Linked DNA regions of Homo sapiens. The protein of the gene in region 1 purifies or fractionates together with the protein of each later gene. This does not show direct contact. Each region holds a gene or a part of one and is shown on either strand. Other genes may lie near its edges.

Region 1 (3,821 bases):
TCAACTTAAAACCACAGAAGATGCCACTACAAACCCCTAGAATGGATAAAATTTAAAAACTAATGGTAACACCAAAGGCTATCAAGGATCTGGAACAACAGGAATTCTCATACAATGTTAATGGGAGGCTAAGTCATAGAATCTGTGTGAAAGCTGCTTGGCAGTATCTACTATAACTAAACATATTACCAGCCTGGCCAACATGGTGAAACCCCGTCTCTACTAAAAATACCAAAACTAGCCAGGTGTGGTGGTGAGTGCCTGTAGTCCCAGCTACTCGGGAGGCTGAGGCACGAGAATCACTTGAGCCAGGGAGGTGGAGGTTGCAGTGAGCTGAGATTGTGTCACTGCATTCCAGCCTGGGTGACAGAAGGACTCTTTAAAAAAAAAAAAAAAATAGGCTGGGCGCGGTGGCTCATGCCTGTAATCCCAGAACTTTGGGAGGCTGAGGCAGGCAGATCACATGAGGTGGAGCTCAAGACCAGTCTGGCCAACATGGTGAAACCCTGCCTGTACTAAAAATACAAAAATTAGCCAGGCATGGTGGTGGTTGCCTGTGATCCCAGCTGTGCAGGAGGCTGAGACAGGAGAATCGTTTGAACCCAGGAGGCAGAAGTTGCAGTGAGCCTAGATTGCACCACTGTATTCCAGCCTGGGTGACAGAGCAAGACTCAATCCCAAAAATGAAATAAAATAAAAAATAAAACTAAGCATATGCACAACCTGTGGTCCAGCAATTGCACCTATAGGTATATATGCAAGAGAAATGTCTACACATGTCCAACAAAAGACATGTACTGTATAAGAATGCTCCCAACAGCATTACTTGTTAAAGCCCCACGCTAGAAACAAGTCAAATATCCATCAGCAAGACAATGGATAAATAGGTTTTGGTATAGTCACACAATGGAATTCTAACAGTGAAAAAGAATAAGCTAGTGCTATGGGCAATAGCATGAATGAGAGTTGAGCCAAAGCAAAGCTAAACAAAACCAACCCGGGCAACATGGTGAGAGCCTGTCTCTCAAAAAAACAAAAACAAAACTTGGCCGGGTGTGATGGCCTGTGCCTGTGTTTCCGGCTACTCTGGTGGCTGAGGCGGGAGGCTTACTTCAGCCTGCAAGGTGGAGGTTGCAGTGAGCCAAGATCGTGCCACTGCAAGATCTGGCTGGGCAACAGAGCGAGACCCTGTCTCAAAAAGAAAGAAGTACTGTGATATAATTCCATTTCATATATAAAGTTCAAAAAGAGGAAATGCTAAGGAGATAGAGGCTAGAATCATGACGACCTTTGTAATGGGTAGTAAGGACTGGGAAGGGCCAGGAGGAAGGCCGCTGCAACTCCCTGAATGCTCTGTTATCTTCATGTGGGTGGTAATTACATGGGTTGGTTCACTTTGTAAAAATTCAGAGTGTACCATTATGATATGTGCACTAGTTCATTAGTTACCATGGCAAACTGCAGATGCCCACTGAAGGACTGAAAGACATGCCATCCCCAAAAATGCTAGATTGGTGCACTGATTACTTCTAGTTGAAAACATTGGAGAAACTGCGGTTCCAGAAAGGGTGAGCTGACCTCCTCTTCCTGCAGGCAGCAAGCCATCAAGATTCCTCTGGGAGGGGAACCCTCAGCATTTCGGGGCGAGAAAATAGCCCTTATCACCAGAGACTGGGAACGGGGCTGCAAAGGAGCTGAATAAATATACTCAACAAAGGAACCCTTATCTTCCACTATAGGTAAAGTAACCCTTATCTCCCCCCATATATCTTCTGGTGATGCCCTCTAGTGAAAGGAAAATAAAAACGCGGGACCCCAGTTCACGCTGCCAAAAGGAATAAAGTAAGCTGAAAGCTGAGTCATGCAAGACGTTGCCTTCCCTTTTGTTCCTAAACAGACAGCTACAAATAAAAGGTTAAATATCTCCACAGGGAGCAACTCTATGTTCATCTTATCTTCTGTGAAGTTCCAACTTACTGAGTGCGAGAGGAATACAGCCATTCACTCTTCCCCTACCTGCTCCTTTTCTCTTGCAATGTGTGCGTTACCACACCCCTCCCTCTTTCCCCTCCTTGACTTTTCCGCTTTACTTTTTTTTTTTTTTTTTTGAGATGGAGTCTTGCTCTGTCACCCAGGTTGAAGTGCAGTGGTGCTATCTCGGCTTACTGCATCCTCTGCCTCCTGGGTCCAAGCAATTCTCCCTTCCTCAGCCTCCCAAGTAGCTGAGATTACAGGAGCCCACCACCATGCCTGGCTAAGTTTTAAATTTTTAGTAGAGATGGGGTTTCTCTATGTTGGTCAAACTCCTGACCTCAAGTGATCCGCCTGCCTCAGCCTCCCAAAGTGCTGGATTACAGGCGGGAGCCACCGTGCCTGGCATCCCCTTTAAATATTGAAGCCCTCAAATTCATCTTTGGAGAAGGGCACAGACCACAGACTGTTTCTGTGATTCTGTTTGTTTGTTTGTTTGTTTTCTTCTGGGCATGTCCTTAAGCCTTGGCAAAAGAAACTTCTAAGCTGATTGAGACCTGTCACAGAGACTTTCCGGTTTACACTCCCCTAGAAACTTTACTGCCCCTAGCCAGATTCCCTTTGTTCTGTCATTTTTTTTTCAAATTTATTATTTGTTTAAAAAGTATAGAAGCATCTTGCCTCGGCCACTTCTTTAGACTTGACTCTTGTGAAGATCCCCATGTAGATGTAAAACTGATAAAAATGTGCATACTTTCCTCTTGTTAATCTCCCTGGTGTCAACTTGGTTTCTAGATCCAGCCTAAAGGGATATGGAGGTAATCCCTAATCCAGCCTAAACAGGTATGGAGGTAATCTCTGATCCAGCCTAATGGGATATGGAGGTAATCTCTGATCCAGCCTAAAGGGGTATGGAGGTAATATCTGATCCAGCCTAAAGGGGTATGGAGGTAATCTCCGGCTCTCCCACCATGGCTAATCTTAGTTATACAATAGCTATTCCTTCTCTTAGTTATACAATAGCATAGCCATGTTGCATGACTCTTGGGCATTATTTTTATAGATTCAAGGGGAAAGGTGCCTCATGGAGGAGTTATGCAAAGTGGTGGCCCTGAATGTAACTCCCTAGTTTTAGCTGTGCATATGGTTGTTCAGATAGACACTACATTTGTCAGCTTTCCTTGTAGCTCAGTGTCATTATGTAACTAATTTCTGGCCAATGGGATGGAAGCATAAATCTGAATGTGCATTTCCCCGGCTCTTCCCTCACTTCATATGGACTGGAAAATGGTGAGGCGGAAAAGCTAACATGGAACCAAAGATGGAAACCACATATCGAAAATGGCAGAGCCATTCTACTAGGTCTAGCTACCTGTGGCTGGACCAGTGCGTGAGAGAGAAATAAGCTTGTAGCTTGTTTGAACCACTGATTTAAGAGTCTCTTTGCTACAGCAATTTAGATGGTACCCTCACTAACGCAGTTGTTAAAGCATGCCATTGGGCTGGGTGCAGTGGCTCACACCTGGAATCCCAGCACTTTGGGAGGCCAAGGCGGGCGGATCACGAGGTCAGGAGATCAAGATCACCCTGGCCAACACGGTGAAACCCCATCTCTACTAAAATACAAAAAAAAAAAAAAAAATTAGCCGGGGGTGGTGTCATGCGCCTGTAGTCCCAGCTACTTGGGAGGCTGAGGCAGGGGAATCACCTGAACCCGGGAGGCAGAGGTTTCAGTGAGCCGAGATTGCACCACTGCACTCCAGCCTGGCAACAGAAGAAGACTTTGTCTAACAAAAAAAAAAGAAAAGAAAAAGAAAAAAGCATGGCATTGAAGGTAGTTAGGGGCGAAA
Region 2 (3,821 bases), on another chromosome or scaffold:
ATATTCAGTTTGTGGGAAAAAAACATCAAATTCCACTTTTACATGCATTTTTCTGTATATGTATTATATACTTCAATCATAAAGTTTTTAATAACGTAATATACTTTTATTTTTTTTTTTTTTGAGACGGAGTCTCGCTCTGTTGCCCAGGCTGGAGTGCAGTGGCGTGATCTCGGCTCACTGCAAGCTCTGCCTCCTGGGTTCTCGCCATTCTCCTGCCTCAGCCTCCCGAGTAGCTGGGACTACAGGTGCCTGCCACCATGCCTGGCTAATTTTTTGTATTTTTAGTAGCCACGGGGTTTCACCATGTTAGCCCAGCCCATAATACATTTTTAAAATACTATTTTGTCCAGATAAAAACAGGAATAGAGTGCTCACTTCCACAACACAAATACTAAAATTGGAATGGTACAGGGAAGATTAGTATGTGCCCTGCACAAGGATGACATGCTAATTCATAAAGCAGTCCATATTTTTAAATTTTTTTGTAAAAATAAAGAAACAAACGGTATAAAGGGGCACATGCAAATACGGCAGGTCTTGAATGAAAGATTACCCGGGTAGAAGCTTTCAGAGGAGTAATTCAAACAGCCAGTGATACAAAGTACCATGTTAATAAAGAATAAGGCTGGGTGCGGTGGCTCACACCTGTAATCCCAGCACTTTTGGAGGCCGAGGCAGGCGGATCACGAGGTCAGCAGCTCGAGACCAGCCTGGCCAACATGGTAAAACCCTGTCTCTACTAAAAATACAAAAATTAGCTGGGTGTAGTGGCAGGCACCTGTACTCCCAGCTACTTGGGAGGCTGAGGGAGAAGAATCGTTTGAACCCGGGAGGTGGAAGTTGCAATGAGCCGAGATCACACCACTTCACTCCAGCCTGGGTGACAGGGTGAGACTCTCTCAAAAAAAAAAAAAAAAAAAAAGCATGTTGGGGCCAGGTGCCACTCATGCTTGTAATCCCAACACTCTGGGAGGCCAAGGTGGGAGAATCGCTTGAGCCCAGGAGTTCAAGACCAGCCTGGGCAACAAAGCAAAACCCTATCTCTACAAAAAAAAAAAAAATGTTTCTTAATTAGCTGGGCATGGTGGTGCACACTTGTAGTCCCAGCTAATCGGAGGCTGAGGAAGGAGAACTGCCTAAGCCCAGGAGTTCAAGGCTGCTGTGAGCTATGACTGCCACTATACTCCAGATCGAGAGAAAGAGTGAGATCCCGTCTCTTAAAAAAAAAAAAAAAAAAAATGCTGAGTCTGGGAAGGAAGTTGTGCAATACTAAAGGATTAACTATCAATTCCTTAGAACATAAGGAGGAATCTCCAGAAATTAAGAAAGTCATAGATGACAACAGCAATGCCTAAAAAGGTTAGCAATGCTTGTCATGTTGTGGCTCATATTTTAATATGGTATTTTCAAGCTCTTCCCTTGACCCTCCACTCCCATACAACTGAGAGTGTAATGACATAGACCCCAAACCTGAGCATCAATCATACCTGAGCTCGAATCAATGGTCTGCCCCTCACTTGCTCTGGCAGTTAACTGCTCTGAGCTCAGTTCCCTCATTTATAAAATAAGGATAATGACTACCTCATAGAGTTATTATTTTTTCAAAGGTGAACAGAGTAGTCACTTCTGCAGCACAAATACTAAAACTGGAATAATACAGAGAAGATTAGCATGTCCCCCGCTCAAGGAGGGAACACTATTATAGTCACCCCTTTGAGTAGATCTAAAGGGTTATTTTAATTATTATTTCCTAATGGTATACGGAGGACCAATGGTGGATTTAACAAGAATTCCTTTGCTTCGGGCAGAGCAAAAAAAAAAAGTTTCCATTCTCAGACAAATCCATGGGTGAGAGAAGGGCTTATAAAATAGTCACCGGCTGGGCGCGGTGGCTCACGCCTCTAATCCCAGCACTTTGGGAGGCCGAAGCGGGCGGATCACGAGGTCAGGAGATCGAGACCATCCTGGCTAACGCGGTGAAATGCCATCTCTACTAAAAATACAAAAAATTAGCCGGGCATGGTGGCGGGTGCCTGTAGTCCCAGCTACTCGGGAGGCTGAGGCAGAATGGCGTGAACCCGGGAGGCGGAGCTTGCAGTGAGCCAAGATCACACCACTGCACTTCAGCCTGGGTGACACAGTGAGACACCGTCTCAAAAAAAAAAAACACAGTCACCATACAGAAACAGAATGAATAAAGATAAAATCAAAAAATAAAGAGAAGGTAGAAATGGGGCTTCTTCTAGAAGCTCACTAGCACAGGTTCCAGGCATTTTCTAAGAGACAGAGACTTGAGCTAAAGCATACTGGGAGAAGTTCAGTGACTTGAGAAATTATGAAAAGGAAGAAACAATCTTCCCCGCAAGCCACAATTGCTACCTAATGTATTCTTCCCTTTGTGGAATATTACTTAAAACAAGTTAGAGATCAACACTAAGGATATTCTGTCATAGGTGGAAGGGCAAGGCCTTCAACCACTTTACACCATCCCCACCCTTAAGTATTATTTGAACAACCATAATTTGTTAAGCGCTTCTTAAGCACAGCCAAAGATGTTAAGTTTTATATTTCAGGAGCTACCATTTCAAAAGAAAAAAAATAAAAAGTTCAACTCCTTAAATCTTTTGGTAACTTTTTCCCCAAAATGTATCCTCTGTCTTAAAAGTAACTAAAATCTACTTCCTCCTGAATTTATTTATCTTTCCCCTAATCCAATAAATGTCTCTCCTTATTCTTCCTATTTACCTCACCATTAAATACCGAAGGTTTTCCTATTTCCTCCCAAGTTGGCACATTAACACTCTAATATTCATTCTGATCTCACAGTATTGAATCTGAGCATAGAAACCTCATAACATTCCCAGGGATAAATCTGCTACCCAATTCCTAAAAGATAACACACAGTTTAAAAAAATAAACACAGTGGTGGTAATTATACAACTGTATACATGTGTCAAAATTTGTCAAACTGTACACTTAAAATTGGTGAATTTTATTGTATGTAAATTATACCTCAATAAAGCTTTTTTTTTTTTTTTAAAGAATGCATTCCGGGCAGGGCATGATGGCTCATGCCTGTAATCTCAACACTTTGGGAGGCTGACATGGGAGGATCCCCTGAACCCAGGAGTTCCAGGAGACCAGCCTGGGAAACACAGGGAAACCTCATCTCTATAAATAAAAAAAAAAGTTAGCCAGGCATGGTGGCACACACCTGTGGTCCCAGCTTCTCAGAAGGCTGACGTGGGAAAATCACTTGAGCCCAGGCAGTAGAGGATGCAGTGAGACATCATCACAGCACTGCACTCCAAAAAAAAAGGGAATACATTCATTACATTCATTCATTCACTCATCAAATATTTGCTATGCATCTATTATATGCATCAAAGTTTATACCACATCTTTCAGCCTGGACTATCCGGGTCCTACCTGTAACAGCATGCTTTACTCATAAGTTGACACTGTCCCTAAAAGCTGTATTACATGAAAAATGATTCTGTTTCTGATAATGTTACCTTAATGATGGCCGCTTTACACTGGAAGGGCCATTAGCTATCCATCAACTTCCATTACATAAATGAAATATATGATCACTTAGGTACTCCCCATTTTAACAGAAATGCTTTCATCATAAGAAATAAGTAAGCACCTAGAGGCATATAGTACATACCACTACTACACTACTACAGCCTTATATGTTTGTCTTTTTACCAAAAAAAAAAAAAAAAAGAAAAGAAAAACAGCACACTTCAAGTGCATATTTACAACACTGCTGAAAGAAAAGGCAATACTATTGGAGAATAGACTTAAATGACTTA

What was found.
Region 2: the proteins of APBB1IP (region 1) and LUZP1 fractionate together in Homo sapiens (co-fractionation; one large-scale study listed by BioGRID). This does not show direct contact.

What each region holds. Positions count from the first base shown.
Region 1 is NC_000010.11:26,514,831-26,518,651, reverse strand, and holds part of APBB1IP (amyloid beta A4 precursor protein-binding family B member 1-interacting protein), read right to left. Parts: intron 1-3,821. UniProt on the Homo sapiens protein: Appears to function in the signal transduction from Ras activation to actin cytoskeletal remodeling. Suppresses insulin-induced promoter activities through AP1 and SRE. Mediates Rap1-induced adhesion.
Region 2 is NC_000001.11:23,162,334-23,166,154, forward strand, and holds part of LUZP1 (leucine zipper protein 1), read right to left. Parts: intron 1-3,821.